Homo sapiens: one gene and its partner. The protein of the gene in region 1 interacts with the protein of each later gene in a biochemical or structural test. Each region holds a gene or a part of one and is shown on either strand. Other genes may lie near its edges. The genes, in order: ELAVL1 and CELF2.

Region 1 (11,008 bases):
AGGAGTTCAAGTCTAACCTGAGCAACATAGCAAGACCCTGTCTCTACAAAAAAAACTAAAAAAAAAAAAAAAAAATGTAGCGTGTCAGGTCATGATCAACGCAGTCAAGAACTAAATAGGGACAGGAGGAACTGGGCGTTGATGCCAGTGGAGGGATCTGTGGCAAGCTGAGTGGTCAGGAGTTTGCTCAGCTGCCATGACAAAGCCCCACAGGCCAGGTTGCTTCAACAGAAGAAGGGTATCAACTCACAGTTCTGGAGGCTGGAAGCCCGAGACCAAGGTGTCAGCAGGGTTGGTTTCTCTTGAAGGCACTGGGAAGGGATCTGTCACAGGCCTCTCTCACAGCTTCTGGTGGAGGCTGGTGGTCTCTGGCACTGCTTGCTTTAGAGAAGCATCACCCCAGTGTCTGCCTCCATCTTCACACAGACTTCTCCCTGTGAGAGTGCCTGTATCCACATTTCCCGCCTTTCTAAATTGAATTTATGTTTTCAAAAAAAATACTTTTTTTTTTTTTGAGATGGAGTCTTGCTCTGTCACTCAGGCTGGAGTGCAGTGGCGCGATCTCGGCTCACTGCAAGCTCCGCCTCCTGGGTTCACGCCATTCTCCTGCCTCAGCCTCCCGAGTAGCTGGGACTACAGGCGCCTGCCACCATGCCTGGCTAATTTTTTGTATTTTTAGTAGAGATGGGGTTTCACCATGTTAGCCAGGATGGTCTCGATCTCCTGACCTCGTGATCCACCCGCCTCGGCCTCCCAAAGTGCTGGGATTATAGGCATGAGCCACTGCGCCCAGCCAAAAAAAAATACTTTTTTTTTTTTTTTAAAGACAGGACCTCACTCAGTCACCCAGGCTGGACTGCAGTGATGTGATCACGGCTCACTGCAGCCTCAAACTCCTGAGCTCAGGTGATCCTCCTACCTCAGCCTCCCGAGTAGCTGGGAATAGAGGTATGCCCCACCACGACCAGCTAATTTTTTTTGTAGAGATGGGGTCTTGCCATGTTGCCCAGGCTGAACTCTTGGGTTCAAGCGATCCTCCCACTCAGCCTCCAAAACAGTGGGATTACTGGCCTGCGCCACCACACCTGGCCTAAATTTCCCTCTTTTATAAGGACATCAGTCACATTTGATTAGAGATCACCCTATACCAGTGTGACCTCGTCTTAACTGATTACATCCGCAATGACTGTATCCAAATCAGGTCACGTTTTGAGGTCCCAAGGGGTTAGGACTTCGGCATATGAATTTGGATTGTGGGGTGGGGGGAACACGATTGAACCCCTCACTGGATGAATTCTTGAGAATGGGCAGCCAGAAAAAGACCTGATTGAGGCCAAAGAGCAAGCGATGTTGGGAGCTTAGGAAAGAGGGTTCTGGCCGAGGGGCCGGGGAGCCCCAGGTCAGTGCACGCCTGCTGTGCGCCAGCTGTTCTGATTCTAGCCTGACTGAACATGACAGTGTCCAGAGAGAAGAGGAAAGCAGAGTTCCCATGGTCCTTGGAGACACCTGTCCTTGGGAGGCATCAGAGCTTTCCCCAGCATTTGGCTCTAGGGCACTTCTCCTCTGGGGCTTCATCCAGGGACGGCAGTAGGTCCAGTCAGTGCCAGCCTCAGCTCCGCTCCACTGGCGCCAGGGTCATGGTTTGGCAGGCCCCCAAATACTGCCCCAGTCCAGACAGGTCTGCAGGGAGCCAGGGCAAGCCCGGACACTAGGGGAGGCTGGGGGCCAAGGCAGCCTCTTTTTCTCTGGGGACAGCACTGGCAGCCCCTGACCCACATCATGGGGTGAGCAAGTGTCCCCAGAGCTCCTGTCCACAGGCTGATGGAGGTGCCCCGGGCCTGGGAGCAGCACGGCTTCCCCAGAGACCTCATGGGCTCCGTAGTGACATGCTCCCTCGATTCCCACCGCTACCAGGCAGAGCTGGCCTCCAGCCCCACACTCCTCTCCTCGTGGGGCTGTCCTGTTCCCCTGCTGGGCCGCCCACTGCCCTATGAGCAGGGGCAATGTCTGTTGTTCCTTCTCTGGAACATGATAGGAGCTTCTCAGAGGATGCTGTGTGTGTGTTCTCAGCACGCAGATTCTGCCCAGTGACTCCTGAGTGGCGGCTTCTCCCTGCGTTCTGGTCTCAGTTACCTTGGCTCATCAGTTCTGTGCCCCTCACTCAAAGGGAATGAACTTCCTTTCGCACAGGTTCAAGTCCCCACCCTTCTCGGGAACACATCTCCTGCTCCCTCCTCCATATCCCAGCCTCCTGACGAGGCTGTGAGTCCTGCCAGGCTGCCCCTTCACAGGCAGAGGGGTTCCACTGTGGTCCTTTTCTTCCTTCTGGGCCCATGGGGTCTGCACGGCCGTCAGCGCCAACCTGAGAAAGCACCGAAGACCTTGTCTTGCATTGGCCTCCGGGCTCCCCTCACCACCCTCTCCACACGAATGATGAATGTACCATTTTGTCAAAGCACCCAGAAGGTTCTCTTCAGTTTTCTTTGATTTTGCAAAATATAAATCCAAAAGGCATTGAGTCGTTTAATATTGAACACTTGAGTGGATTTGAGTACAAACTCGGGGTCCTCCCAGAACTCACAGCCCCTGTCAGGGCTTCTGTGGCGAGCTTGCTCTTTGGCAGGGGAGTCTCCTGTGTTCCCAGTAGCTCCCAGCTTGCTTGCCCGCTGCAGCACGGGCTGCTTTCAGGCACCAGGACCTCTCTGGCACCGGCTCACTGTCCAGCACATCAGAGAGGTAGCCACACACAAGCTGCGGGCCCTCAGTTGCTGGGCTTTGTGACATAGGAGTCACGCCTGCCTCCTTGAGGATGGTGAGCACCCAGTGAGGAAGCACTGCCAGGCATCCTGGCTCACGGCCCATCCCTCAGTGAGCTTGCCACCATGCGGCTGCAGGCGGTGAGCGTCAGTGATGATAATCGTTCCCTGCATGATTTCTAACACACAGTGTTGGCTTTTCCTAACCCAGCATTCAACACCCTCCTCAATGCTTTGGCCACGTGCCTGTACTAATCTCGGAAAGTGGTTGTGTTCCCAAGGTGTCGTATGCTCGCCCGAGCTCAGAGGTGATCAAAGACGCCAACTTGTACATCAGCGGGCTCCCGCGGACCATGACCCAGAAGGACGTAGAAGACATGTTCTCTCGGTTTGGGCGGATCATCAACTCGCGGGTCCTCGTGGATCAGACTACAGGTACCAGAGGGGCCCCAGACGCGTGGGGAGGGTGTTCTCTAGGTGGGGGCTGGGTTTTCTAGGGAAGGCAGATCACCGTTTGATTTTAAATGTCATTAGTTATTCCGCAAACGAGGACAGCACCAAAATGAGAAGACGTTGGCTTTGGTTTGAGGAGGCTGAGGAGGTAAGATGGCATTAAAAGAAGCTGGGGATATCTGGGCGTGGTGGCTCACGCCTGTAATCCCAGCACTTTGGGAGGCCAAGGTGGGTGGATCACGAGGTCAGGAGATGGAGACCAGCCTGACCAACATGGTGAAACCCTGTCTCTACTAAAAATACAAAAAATTAGCTGGGCATGGTGGCGGGCGCCTGTAGTCCCAGCTACTCGGGAGGCTGAGACAGGAGAATGGCATGAACCCGGGAAGCGGAGGTTGCAGTGAGCCGAGGTCTTGCCACTGCACTCCAGCGTGGGTGACAGAGCGAGACTCCGTCTTAAAAAAAAAAAAAAAAAAAGCTGGGGATTAGGCCAGCATTTCATGTACAGTGAAAACGCCAAGAGATTCTAGCACCTTCCCTCAGGCACCCAAATGTGCTGGCCTTGCCCATGAATGGGGTGAAAAGGACACTGCAGGCCGGGTGTGGTGGCTCACGCCTGTAATCCCAGCACTTTGGGAGGCCGAGGTGGACGGATCACCTGAGGTCAGGAGTTTGAGACCAGCCTGGCCAACATGGTGAAGCCCCATCTCTACTAAAAATACAAAAATTAGCCAGGTGTGGTGGCAGGCGCCTGTAATCCCAGCTACTCGGGAGGCTGAGGCAGGAGAATCGCCTGGACCCCAGGAGGCGGAGATTGCAGCAAGCCGAGATTGCGCCACTGAACTCCAGCCTGGGCAGCAGAGCGGGATTTCATCTCAAAAAAAAAAAAAAAAAAAAAAAAAAAAAGGATACTGCAGCCAGGTGCGGTGGCGCGGGCATGTCATCACAGCTGCTCAGGAGACTGAGGTGGGAGGATTGCTTGAGCCCAGGAGTTCACAGCTGTGGTGAGCCGTGATCGCGCCACTACACTTCAGCCTGGGCAACAGAGCAAGACCCTGTTTCTTAAAAAAAAAGAAAAAGAAAAAAAAAGGCTGCTGCACATTTGTCCACTGTGGCTTTCGTTGCAGGCATTTGGGGTGCAGTAGTCTGATGGCCCAAATCCCCAGAATTCGGATGCCCCTCTCTGGGGAGCACATCTAAAGTGCACAGAGCACATGGCAGCGAATTCCTCTAATGGGCAGGCAATCCTGGCCACTTTGCTGGCCCTCCCAGTCCGTCTTGGCACTGGATGTGGGCTCTGGGCTTTGTGTGATGCCGTCAGGCAGAGATGAGCAGGGGACATGTGCACGCCCACGGCTGTGCTCCGGCCCTACTGCCTGGCCCGCCTGCCGCACTAGGCTAGGAACTAGTGCCCCACCACATCCTTTGCCAAGCCCTGCACGTGGCCCCGCCTGGGGGACAGGGAGCTCGGGCCACCCTGAGGGGATTTAGGATCGCTCAGCTCTGTTTGGGGCAGGAGCAGGAGTCTGCTAACTAACCAGCAGGGAAGAATCCACTCCCTGAGCCTAGTGAGGCCCATGCGTTGTATGGGTGGTTTTCATATTCTTCCCACACAGACTGTGTGTGCCGCACCTTGGCTGTGATGTTGAAATAACACCGAGTAGTTGGGCCACAGAAAGTCATGCTCTGAGGTGACCTCTTTTTGAGAGAACAGCAGCACTCCCCCAGCAGCCCAGAGCCTCGCCTTTCATGTGCACACAGGTGGGGCCTTCCTGGCCTGCAGGCTAGAGGGGCATGCACATTGTCCTGCGTCCCCTGAGCTGCGTGCTTTGGGGTGGGCGGCCTTATCAGTCTCTCTTCCTCCTCCTTTCCGGCTGTAGGAACCCCACCTGGCATGCACTGGCCCTGCCGCTGCCGGCCTTCGTTCCCGCTGGGGCCCGAGGAGGGGAAGGGCCCCTTTGCACTTCATGGGGGCCCTGGGAGCTTCCTGTAGCCTAGCACAGACTCGCGCCCTGGCACCGGGCAGTGCCGAAGGACAGGGCTCACTCGCACGGCCGCCGCCATTCTGCCTTTGCTCTGGGGAGAGGGTCGGGGGATGCCAGTTACTCGGTGTAAACTCCCCTGGTCTGCACCAGAAGAGTCTCCTGTGGTCCCTGAAGTCCTCTCACTTAAGTGCCAGCTGAGCGAATGATCCTGTCAGTGGGCCAGTGTGTGGGTTTATTGCCCCCCATTCTGCACTGGGGCATCTGAGCTGGCTGTGCAGGGCCCAGGGCCGGGGGAACCAACCTCACTGGCCCACAGTCCACTCCCCTCCTCCTCTAGACCCCACATGCACTGCTCTGCCTCGGCCTGTCTGTGTCCAGTATGGCCCTGATGAGGGAAGCCTGTGCTCCACTTGGAGCCCCCAATGCCTGAGAACATGCCTCCAGCCACCCAACTCTCTTGGGGCCTTCCCTAGTCTCTCAGGCACACACGGGCCACAGGCAGGGGGAACTCACCTCTGCACACAGCTGCTGGGGGCATTGCTTCCTTTCCCTCTGCAAGATAGTGTCTCCCAGGGTGTTGGGGGCACCTTAGTATTGCGCCCCCAGGGTCGGCTGTGAACCTCAAGGTGGCCTAAGGAACCTTTGTCATCTTTGCAGAGCAGTGAGGGAGGCAGAGAGAAGGGAGCCAGGAGGGTCTCCCGGCTCTGCTTCCCACCCCAGGATGCAGAATTGGTGGGAAGGTGAGGCTCCCATCCCAGGGCTGTAGCTCCCTCTGCTGGAGACAGAGTGTGTGTGGCAGGCCAGCCTGTGTGGAGTTTGCCTTCCTGTGACGGGCTTTTTAGTGTTAAATAGATGAGGATGGCCGGGCGCGGTGGCTCACGCCTGTAATCCTAATACTTTGGGAGGCCAAGGTGGGAGGATTGCTTGAGCCCAGGAGTTCAGAACAGCCTGGCCAACATAGCGAGACCCCCAACTCTTTTTTTAAAAAAAGAGAAAAAAAATCCCACCCTGAGCTGACAGAGCTTAATTTTTTGTATTCCTTCGCTTCTATATCCACCTTAATTGTGAACTTTATAGTGTATTCATCTGGAGATTATGCCGTTTCTTGGACTCTGCTGTTAAATTCTAAAAAACACAAGGGGGCCGGGGGCCGTGGCTCACGCCTGTAATCCCAGCATTTTGGGAGGCCAAGGTGGGTGGATCACCTGAGGTCAGCAGTTCGAGACCTGCCTGGCCAACATGGCAAACCCCATCTGTACTAAAAATAGGCCGGGCACGGTGGCTTATGCCTGTAATCCCAGCACTTTGGGAGGCCAAGGTGGGCGGATCACGAGGTCGAGAGGTCGAGACCATCCTGGCCAACATGGTGAAACCCCGTCTCCACTAAAAATACAAAAACTTAGCCAGGCATGGTGGCAGGCACCTGTAATCCCAGCTACTGGGGAGGCTGAGGCAGGAGTATCGTTTGAACCTGGGAGGCGGAGGTTGCAGTGAGCCGAGATTGCACCATTGCACTCCAGCCTGGGCAAAAAGAGCGAAACTCCATCTCTAAATAAATAAATAAAGTAAAATAAAATAAAAATTAGCCAGGCATGGTGGCAGGCGCCTGGAGTCCCACCTACTCGGGAGGCTGAAGCAGGAGAATCACTTGAACCGGGGAGGTGGAGGTTGCAGTGAGCTGAGATCGTGCCATTGTACTCCAGCCTGGGCGACAGAGCGAGACTCCATCTTAAAAAAAAAATTAAAAATAAAAAACACTAGGGGAAGAAAAAAACAAAAAATGCAGAGCCATCTTCAGAAAGTATACATCCATTAAATAATTGAGTGAATTGATATCCCCCTCTGCTAAACAGCATCCCTCCTGCCCCCCTTACTAGAGCTTTCTTCCTTTCACTCAGGCAGTTTGCATTTGAAAGCCACTCTACAACCCCAGACGAGGAAGCCACACTTGCACACGTGCCTTCTCTCCGCTGGGCCGCAGGGTCTTTAGAAACAGAATGAAGCCATCTGCTTGGAGCCAGCTTCCCTACGAGCCGGCCAGCGTCAGCTCTCAGTCGTATTTGCCTAAAGTTCGATTTTCATTTAGGTTTCCAAGACTGACTAAGCTGTCATTCGTGTCGTGAGAGACTCAAAGAAAACAGCATCTGTCAGGGTTGTGTTTTCAGGTGTTCCTTCTGAGCAGCAGCTCAGAAATGAGCTTGAGCCCCAGAATATTCCTGGCACGTGTGCGTAGCGCTAGGTCTGACCTTACTAAAGCTGCTGTCTCTGTGCTCACGGGGGGCCTGCAGTGTCGCGATTGTGGGGGCAGCTGGCGGGACCCTCTGGGAAGTGGTGGAGTAAGGTGCCGTGTGAGGCGTGGAGACAGGACATGGGGACAGTTGGGTGCCCGCTGGACAGGTCACCCAAGGCCCCGGGCTGCCTGGCTTTGGTCGTTGTTTGTTACCATGCACCAGAGGCCTTTGCCTGGAGAAGAAACCTGACTTAAGACACCCTTTGACTGGAAGTCTTTCTTTTTCCTTAAGAGGTGAGATCTTACTGTGTTGTCCAGGCTGGTCTTGAACTCCTGGCCTCAGGCGATTCTCTTGCCTCAGCCTCTGGAGTAGTTGAGACCACAGGCATGAGCCTTGGCCTGGCTTGACTAAAAGTCTTGAGAACCAGGGTGTTTGGGTTGGGCTGTCTGTGACGGCCTCTCCCACTGGGACACACCCGTGACTCCCGCCTAGTGATGTCACTCTCAGACTGGCCTCTCAGCTGTCACCTCTCCCACCCCTGGGCCTTCCCCTGACTCCATCATGTCCTTGCCCCCAGAGAAGGAGCTAGTGCGCTGCTCAGTGTGCCCTCATCCCCATCCCCCTCATCCAGTTTCCAGCCCGCTTCCCAGGTTCCTCAAGGGACGGGCTACTCATGTTTCCCTCCCGGGCCTAGTGTATGGACAGGCAGGGGTGCAGGACAGCCATGCTCTCCTTCCACCCGCCTTGCTCAGCATCTCACACCCATGCCCAGCTGACCAATGTCCCCCATAGCAGGACGGTCCTCAGGTCTCACACTGCTCCGTCCAGGGATTGGGTTTAGCCGGGAACCCGGGACTGGCCCTTGGGTGGCTCAGTTGAGGTGGCAAGAGAAGATGCCCTCTGGGCTTGGCTGCTGGGGCCCTGGCCCTTCCCATACAGGGACCCCAGGCCTGCCTGGCGAGCCTGTGGATAGGTTCAGCTCTGCTGTATGAGCCTGGGCAGTGTTCTGGCCTCATTTGATTCTGATGGCAATTTGGGGCCCACGGGAGGGGTGTAGGACCTTAGAGTGGAGTATCCCAAGACAGGAGTGAGGTGACAGCAGCAGCATGGAGCTGGCAGGGGGTGGCCACAGGACCCTACTCCCTCCTGGCATGAAGGAGAAGGCATGCAGGCTGAGCTGGGCACCTTTGCAGCAGGCTCGGCCACGAGGCCTGCTGTCACAGCGGGCCCAGAGACAGCAGCCAGGAGAGTGGCCCCTGAGCCCAGGGAGGATCTCTCAGACGCAGTCCCCACTCCAACCCTGTTACCCACCAACCACACACCACACCCACGCACCCACTCTGTGGCGGACACCTGGCAGCTAAATAGTGACGGTGGATGTGCTGTTTCCTAATGTTGCTTTCTTCCAAATAAGAGGCCTGGGTGTCTATTGGGGATGTCTGTCACCAAAATATCTTTGGGCGCCAACACTGTGGAGTCATGGCTTCAGCCGGGAAGAAAGTCTGAAGCTTTAATCTTCTGTTAGTCATTGGTTTTCTTTACTCCATCCATTTGTTTTCACTTTTAGGTTTAATTTTTGTTTATTTCCTTAACCAGACTTCTAGCCTGGCCCACAGTAGACTGACCTGACTTTTGCTTTTCAGTTTTGAAAGTCCTAGCGTTTTTCCCCCTAACTCCGTTTTTGTTGATTTGTTGAAAAGGTTTGTCCAGAGGGGTTGCGTTTATCCGGTTTGACAAACGGTCGGAGGCAGAAGAGGCAATTACCAGTTTCAATGGTCATAAACCCCCAGGTTCCTCTGAGCCCATCACAGTGAAGTTTGCAGCCAACCCCAACCAGAACAAAAACGTGGCACTCCTCTCGCAGCTGTACCACTCGCCAGCGCGACGGTTCGGAGGCCCCGTTCACCACCAGGCGCAGAGATTCAGGTGGGTCGGGAGGGTGCGCGCTCCTGAAAGCCATACTTAGCCCCGCTGGCAGGCGACGGCACAGCCACAGAATAGAAACCACGGGGATGATAGACTGATCCCGTCAGAGAGCGCGTTTCAGAATCATTCTGCAGCTCCACACCACAACCTCCATCAGAAAGGTGTCTGTAGGAAAGCCGTTTACTTCCGATTGGGCGTTGTCTTTCATGGGAATCAAAACAGTGACTCCAGGCTGGACACAGTGACTTATCCCTGTAATCCTAGCACCTTGGGTGGCTGAGAGAGGAAGATCGATTGAGCCCAGGAGTTCAAGACCAACCTGGGCAATATTGCGAGACCCCATCTCTACAAAAAATACAAAGCTGGCCAGGCATGGCGGTGCGCTCCTGTAGTTGCAGCAACTCAGGAAGCTGAGGTGGGAGGATTGCTTGAGCCCAGGAGGTTGAGGCTGCAGTGAGTTGTGATCATACCACTGCACTCCAGCCTGGGCCACAGGGCCAGAACCTGTCTTTTTTTGTTTTTATTAAAAAAAAAAAAAAGACAGCACCAGTCCCCACCAGTTGCTGTGAGCGTGAGCACTTAGAGCTTCAGCACGCAGTTCCTAGTAACAGCAGAACGGAGCCGCGAGCTTTAAAGATGGTTTCATGCCCAGTGTGGGGGAGCACACACCTGTAATCTCAGCTCTCAGGAGGCCGAGTTAGGAGGATTACTTGAAGCCCCGAGTTTGAGCAGCCTGGGCAACAAAGTGAGACCCCTGTTCCTACAAAAAGTAATGAAAAAAACTGGGCATGGTGATGCTGGCCTTTAGTCCCAGCTACTCAGGAGGCCATGGTGGGAGGATCGCTTGAACCCAGGAGGTGGAGGCTGCAGTGAACTATGATTGCACCACTGCACTGCAGCCTGGGTGATAGAGTGAGACCCTTTCTCTAAAAAATAAATGAATAATGAACGTCTCATATCTGTGGGAGAAAAGATGCTGCCTTAGGTATACTCGGGTGAGAGTAGATCTTCCAGCATTCTTAGACATTTGATCAGCAGCCCTAAGGCAAACCTTTTTCAAACACCTGCCTCGTGGAGTCATTTGTATTGGTGAATGTTGTATGTATGCATTCTGTTTATAAGCCCTGTCCTAGAGGGGAGGAGTTTTCCCGGATTCCTTAGTCTTTCCATCCTGAAAATGGTTCTGGCTGCCAGGATGAAGTGGGATAGAGGCGATGAGAGTCAGGGCCTTGGACTCCAGGATGTGGTGTGCTGTCGCCTCAGAAACAGCAGAGGTCTCAGTGTCAGGGCTGTTTTGTTTTTGTCAAAACCTCAAGGAGTGGCATCGAGGGCTTATCTCAGGTATGACAAGGATAGATTTCCCTTTTTTTTTTAATTTTTAATGTTTTTATTTTTTGTTGAGATGGGGTCTCACTGTGTTGCCCAGGCTGGTCTTAAACTCCTAGCCTCAAGTGATCCTCCTACCTCAGCCTCCCAACGTACTGGGATTATAGGCGTGAGCCCGGCCCCATCGTTGTTTTAACAGTGAAGCTGGGTGGGCGCTGCCCAGTGCCACACATGCTGCTGTGAGAGGTGTTATTCTCATGGCTGAGTTACCCAGCATTCTCAGCCTGGCTCAAATTCCAAAGCTGGCCTGCCTTCCTTGAGGTTTCTGGCT
Region 2 (7,000 bases), on another chromosome or scaffold:
AGTTTTGGGGTTTTAAACATTCGGTATCAAAACTATAAATGGAAATGGACATTTTAAATAATCTTGGCTATTAAAGTTTCATTGTCTTTGTGTTACTATACAATATCATCTACAATATTAGCCACACAGCATAATGAAAACAGGCACTGATTTTTTTTTAAATTTGATTTTAAACTGACAGTTGATTTTCAATTAAGATGGTGGAGAGTGTTTCCTCCTTTGATTCACCTTTTTAATGACCATATACATGCATTTAGGGTTTGTAAATGGTTTTGGATTTTTAAACAAAGCTAATAAATAAAGTCTCAGAAATGAGAAATTACAGTTAGACTGATAAACACAGCTTAAAAAGCATTAGGTGTTAGAATAAGACACTGAGAAGAGTCTACCAATAAATTAAAAATAAATTTTTTTTACATTTGGTAGGTAACCTTATTGAAAATGAGAAAAGTTATGTTGACTGTAAATTCATCAGCTTAATGAACTAGCTTTTTGTTAAGTCCTTTCAAGTTAGGATAACTGGCAAAATATCTATCAGTGTATAATTAAACTGAAGGGTGGTTCTAAGGACATCATTGTTAAAGCTGAAAAGGGCTTTAGAGACCATCTCATCAGACCTCATTTTATAGATTAAGAAACTGTTAGAGGGGCAGTGTGACGAGTCCAAGAAGTAATTACTGCCTCCCCCCAAAATAAGGAAACGTGAGTTGTTAGTTGAGTGCCTGCCATGCGCCAGGATAGTTTATTCACACCGTCTCTAATCTGCAGGGTGGATATTGCCCACATTTTACAGATGATGCTTAAAGAGGTGACCTGCTTGCCCCTGCCACATAGGCAGTAAATGGCAAAACTGTGGTTTTCAAGTAAGTGAACACATGTGGGGTGGCATGTAATGTTCATGGGTTGATGCAGAGAAGAACACTGAATTAAAGGATATGACATACCCTTTTATCAAAATCAAAACTGTGCCATGTGAGAATGAGCATAAGAAATAAGTATGTCACCTGATCAGGATTGATGTATGTGAAACATCATTTTATACTTTCTAATTTGATTCCAATTCGGTTATTCCATATATTTATTAACTAAGCAGAATACGTTTTAATTAAAAATCTTTTTGGTTTACAAGGTTCCAGCAAGATAAAGATCAAAAGCAGTGGGGTTCTGTTTTTCTCCTCCATGGGCATTTAAAGTCTATTTAGAAAATGCAGTTATAAATAATACGGAGATAACTGGCATTTATCACCTGATACTCTGATGGTCATGAAAGGAAATTAAAATGAGAAAAGTCTAAAGAAAAGACTTTGCGTATGGTTCTTTAAGGAAAATTTTTGAAGTGTTTTTTTCAGTTGAGATTGCTCCGTTAACAGCACATGTTATCAGCTGCTTTCCGAGAGGAAGAATTCATCCCACATTGGCTTTTTAGAACACTGATGTTATCTTTGATCTGGGCAGAGGTATTATTTTAATTGTTTAATCTTGCTGTTTAATTGCAATTTGCTGGGTTGAGATAACTTTGGCATCTGTTGATGAGATGCAGTGAGCTGGGGAAACAAGACCCTTGAAAGACAAGATAAAAAGGTGATGGGATTTTTGGATATGAACCTAGTAATTAAGATTTCATGGGATCATTTGGAGTGTTTTCCACTTCTCAGTGTTTGGTTGTTTTTTTTTTCTCCCCTGACAGCTACAATAACACTGTATTTGGCCTCTGGTAAAAGACTGCAATATCCTTAGCTTTTTTACATAAATCCCCAAACTTCATTTCTCTTTACCCCTTCCTTACTTTTATTAAAGGTTAAACACTCGTTTACTTAGCATAAAAAGACAGGTTACGTTTGGCATGCAAAATGATCTGATACAGCTGAGTGTAATACAGCCAGCGCCCAATATGACCCAGCTCTTGGGCAAAAAATCAGGGTAGCGATCATTGTTGAGACTTATATGTAGATTATAATGGGAATATGATGTCATTGTTGAATTTTTTGTAAAAACCGACAAAAATGAAAACAAACTCTCATAAATGTTAAGCAGTACTATAAGCATTCCGTATCTAATTTGCATTTAAATGGAAAATGTTATATTTTCAACATGAGTCAAGGAGCAAAATTAATAAGTCATCAATGTTGCTTATGTTCAATGCTGCACTTTACCCAAACTTAATAGGTCATTATTTCCACTTTAGAGTATTACCGTTTGGGAGATTTTGTTTCTTCACGGGAGGGTCACATTTTCGCTTTTTGTTTTCGGATTAGGCCATCACAAAGAGTTAGATGTTTGTCAGTGTAATGTTTGTTTTACAGAACCACAGAAGGGAGGGTTTGGAAACTACTAATGATTTCCAGTTCATTAGCACCTACAAGTTCTCATGCATCCTGTTTGTTTCCTCCACCAAGGAGGTGCCGAGTAATATAATGAAGCCAGTATCAGTGGTGTGCTACTTGTGTAGCAGTGCAGAAAATGTATTTTTATTTTTCCTTAAGAAACAGCTCTTGCTAAACTTAAGAGAAATGGAGCTGCACATTCCTGGGAAAAACCTATGTGGGAAACAAAAACTAATTAGAGCAGCAAATGTGATGCTTTCAGGTAATTGTAAAATAATTATTCCCCTTTAGTATCATCACCGTGTAATTGTTCCATCCAATATCCTCATGCTCTGAATCCAGATGTGAAGGGATGGAAACCATCTCCTCCTCCTGGGAATGTATTTTTCATTTAGTGAGAGCTTTAGACTCCTCCTAAAGGACTTTTAAAAGAAAGGGGAAGACATTGAGGGAGATTTTGAACAGCTTCACTCTCCCCATTTGTTCTAAATCATGACAGAAAGTGATTACTCCAACTGTTTTTATAGAAATACAATTCCAGTTATGTGGCTGAAATGCCTTGTGAGCGTATTTGAGATTTACGCATTGGCCGTGCCAACCTGGAGTTTTATGAACAGTCTCTTTTATGAACTGCAGATTGTATGTTCTGTTTAGATACTAAAAGTGATGTTTTAAAATCAGCTGATAATTTAAAATGTAATGCTAATAAGTGTGTAGTCCTGTGGTTTTCAAAATGACGTATGAGTACAAATTCAGGTTTTGGTTAAATTTTATTTACTCCATTTGAGTGAATGCCTCAGAGCCAACATAACCAGCAAATTATTAGACCCATTTTTTTTCCTCCTAAAGATTTATGTAAATTAAGTTTAGGCTGTATTTAAACTATCAGGTCGGCTTTATTAGTCTGTGTTTTTCTATCAGGTTATGTGGCCTTTTACTTAAGGTTGGGTTTTAAATGAAGAAATCTATTCTGAAGAGATCTTCATTTAAACAATCTGTGCGTCCTCCAGATCAGCAGCCCAGGAGTCACCTAGGTAGTTGACCAGTTTGCCAGGATTCCTCTAGTGCTTTAAAGGTAGGAGTTAGATACAATATTTTGATTTTAAATCTCAGTAATTAAAGAAGTCAGTCGGGTACGGTTGCTCACGCCTGTAATCCCAGCACTTTGGGAGGCCGAGGCAGGCGAATCACCTTCAGGAGTTGGAGACCAGCCTGGCCAACATGGCAAAACCCTGTGTCTACTAAAAATACAAAAATTAGTTCGCCGTGGTTTCGCATGCCTCTAGTCCCACTTACTTGGGAGGCTGAGGGGGGAGGATCGCCTGAACCTGGGAGGTGGAGGTTGCAGTGAGCTGAGATGGCAGCATTACACTCCAGCCTGGGCGACAGAGCAAGACTCCGTCTTCTTCTTCTAAGAATAATAATAGTAATAATAATAATAATAATGAAGAAGTCCCGGAAGTTTGTCTCCTCAGTGAGACTGTATGCAGTGCTCTCTGTCATAACCATGGAAATCCAGTCTCCCCAGTGCCACAGCTGATTTGTCTGACATTTACAAGCTCCAATAGGACTGAAGATTTCCTACTTTCACAGATGAAGGTGGTGACTCACTACTCAGGGACAATGAAATTAAGGTCAGCTGATTTATTTCACATCTTGACATAGCTTTTGGACAGCTTAAATTGTTTCTGGTACCATAACAGTGTACTCCCAAGTACTTTGATTTACATACTAAGTCTAAAATTCTGTGCTTTTATGCTGAAAGTCTTGATTTTATGCTTTTTCTAAAGAAAGTTCACAGCTTGAGTAAAACTCATTAAATTTTAAGGTGGTATTTTATATCCTTTCTCCCAAATTATGTCTTCCTTTCTCCTAGTAGCAGGAAAGTTGACCCTCATTTATTTGACACAAAGACAATCAGTTGGTCTTTTAGGCTAAAAGAGTAAAGTATTTTGTCATTTACTTGAATGTGGTCAGTAGGCCTGAAATATGTGTGGGGGTATATACATATATGTGTGTGTGTGTGTGTGTGTGTGTGTGTGTGTATATGTATGTGACTGTATATCTGGAAAGTCATCTTATTGGACATATGGTTAGGCTTTGTGTCCCCACCCAGATCTCATCTTGAATTGTAGTCACCATAGTCCCCACGTGTCAAGGGAGAGAGCAGGTGGAGGTAATTGAATTATAGGGACAGTTTCTCGTGTGCTGTCCTCGTGGTAGCGAGTTCTCACGAGATCCGATGGTTTTATAAGGGGCCCTTCCCCCTTCGTTCAACGCTTTCCCTTCTTGCCACCTTGTGAGGGAGGTGCCTGGCTTCCCCTTCCCTTTCTGCCGTGATTGTAAGTTTCCTGAGGTCTCCCCAGTCATGCTTAACTGTGAGTTGAGTAAAACTCTCTTCTTTATAAATTACCCAGTCTCAGGCAGTTCTTTATAGCAGTTTGAAAATGGACTAATACAGCATAGGTCTTCGCTTTCTTAAAATATTTACCACGAAATGGTCTTTGGTTACAAAAGTGATCATACTTGTGTTTTTGGATTATTACCATTGTAACTGAAAGACTTTATGTTCAGAAAAGTTTCACATTGTGACCAAAGATGTACTGCAAATTAGTGATACTGCTAGAAAAAAGTCTCAGGACTGTATTTCAACTCTTCTGCCCAGAACTTTGGATTAACTCTGATGAAGGGTGAAGACAACCTCACTCTGGCAGTTCTGCCATGTTACTGGGTGAAAAGCTCAGACTCTTTCCCTTTTGAGGGCCTCTTTTCTCCTCACTGCTGAGTCCTTGGATCTGGGGGCTTCTTCTGTTTCTCAGTGGCAATTAAGATGTTGCTACTCCTGAGGTCTTTTCAGAGTTAGAGTAGGAAGAAAAACAGACTTCACAGAGAAATCTGGACAGTTGGGCCTCCACGGATGTTTTCTTGTTATGCAGACACATACGGTCCTCCGCGGACCACACCCCCTACCTTGTGCCTCTTGGCTGCTGCTTCCATTTTATATGATCCATGTCATGATCCCACTGCCACCTGTTGCTGTTGAAAGGGGTCCTTGAAATTTTTATTGTCTAATGGGAGTCCAGCATATAAACTGAACACTTAAAAAAGGTGAACGTTACAGCAGATTCACAAGCCCGGAAGTGGGTAAATTGGTTTAAACCAACTTAAATACCTACCCGCCTCCCCCGCCACACACACCCAGGTGTTTTCTCTTTGGAACTCGGGGGGAAGACATTGGGTATCAAGTAAAACAGGGTTGAAATCATTTGGTCCTTGAAAACTCTTAGGGGAATAATAGAAAGATGATACCCAAAAGTGTGAAGACAGAAAGCATTTGTTAGAGGACTAATGTGGATTTACTTCGTTGTTTTGCTCTTCACTCCTGAATCTCTGTACCCTGGCCTAGATTCAGTGTGGTCATAACCAGTACAGAGTACAGCTTTCTCTGAAGTTGTCTTGTTGCCCTTCTTATGTTTTCCTGATTTATATATATGTTTTAAAAAATCTCCTTTAATGCCCGTTTTATCCTTTTCCTGAGCGGCTTCCTAAGTTTCAACAGAAGGGGCCACAGCCGTCTGGGACTTAGTTCTCAGGGTTGGAGCCTCGGGAGGAGAGCAGTATCCAAATACCTAGCTCATCACTTGTAAATTCCACTGGAGCAGCTGCTTGTTTCTGCGCATTGAACTGTATTTTGACTTCCTACATTATAGGAGGAGTGTTGAGTTTTCGAGTTGAGCATAAGGGTGGCGTGTTTCGGAATGATTAACTTTATGGATGTCTTTGTCTGGGCCAGCTATATTTGGCTATGCTGCAGCTGTGTTTGCCTTCTCAAAATTGTCACCAGGAGGCCTCCAACTGCAATTAGTCACTTCAGTCCACGCTGGTAACATCTTTGCTCGTGACTCCCATTGTCCAGCCAGCCATCTTTTCTTGGTGTCAGGACTGAGAGATAACACAGGAATCCTTTGAGAAGCCTGAATGCTGCTGGCAGCTCTGTCTCAAAGCAGTTTCTTAATATTAAGCCATCCTTACATTGCCTCCTCGTGCATTTGGGATTCTTCTTTCTTTTCACCACAAGCTCATGTTTTCCTGTCTGCTCGTTCCCCCTTTTCTTTTACGCTCTGATGTCCGAAAGTTGCCGCCAGCATCAAATGGACGGTGTTTCTTCCTCTTCTGGGTACCTAGAGCGCTTGGGAATGCATTTTTACTTCTGGTGTCTTAGAGTCCCCTTACATAAGGGCCCCTTTCCTGTGTTGGAGAGGAGACTGAGAGGCAAGTCGTTTTTTTTATCTTCACCTCGGTTGAGTACTTGCTACAGAATTTACCTTTCTTTCGGGAGGAATTGAGGAAATACTTTTTCTTACTACAAAGACCATTTTCATTCCATTGGCTATGCGTGGTTTTTAATTTTTCATGGAAGTAACTTCCTCTTGGATTGTTCGACTTGCCCTGTATGTCGTAGAATGGAACCACTAGGGACATGGCTTCAGGGCCTCTCCCAGCACCAGAGTGGAAGGGCATCCTTCAAGGCTAGGCGTCCTTTGCCACTGTCTTATGAGAATGCCTGGCCTGCCTTCTAATCTGTTCCATGCCTACTTCAAGTCTCAGTTGACTTGTCAAGATTCCTCGTCTAGAAAATAAGGACAATAAAATACGCTGCTTACCTGTCCCACAGT

Evidence for each region.
Region 2: the proteins of ELAVL1 (region 1) and CELF2 form a complex in vitro, tested with the Homo sapiens proteins (one study listed by BioGRID).

Annotation. Positions count from the first base shown.
Region 1 is NC_000019.10:7,965,908-7,976,915, reverse strand, and holds part of ELAVL1 (ELAV-like protein 1), read left to right. Parts: intron 1-3,037; coding exon 3,038-3,191; intron 3,192-9,125; coding exon 9,126-9,351; intron 9,352-11,008. UniProt on the Homo sapiens protein: RNA-binding protein that binds to the 3'-UTR region of mRNAs and increases their stability.
Region 2 is NC_000010.11:11,020,872-11,027,871, forward strand, and holds part of CELF2 (CUGBP Elav-like family member 2), read left to right. Parts: intron 1-7,000. UniProt on the Homo sapiens protein: RNA-binding protein implicated in the regulation of several post-transcriptional events. Involved in pre-mRNA alternative splicing, mRNA translation and stability.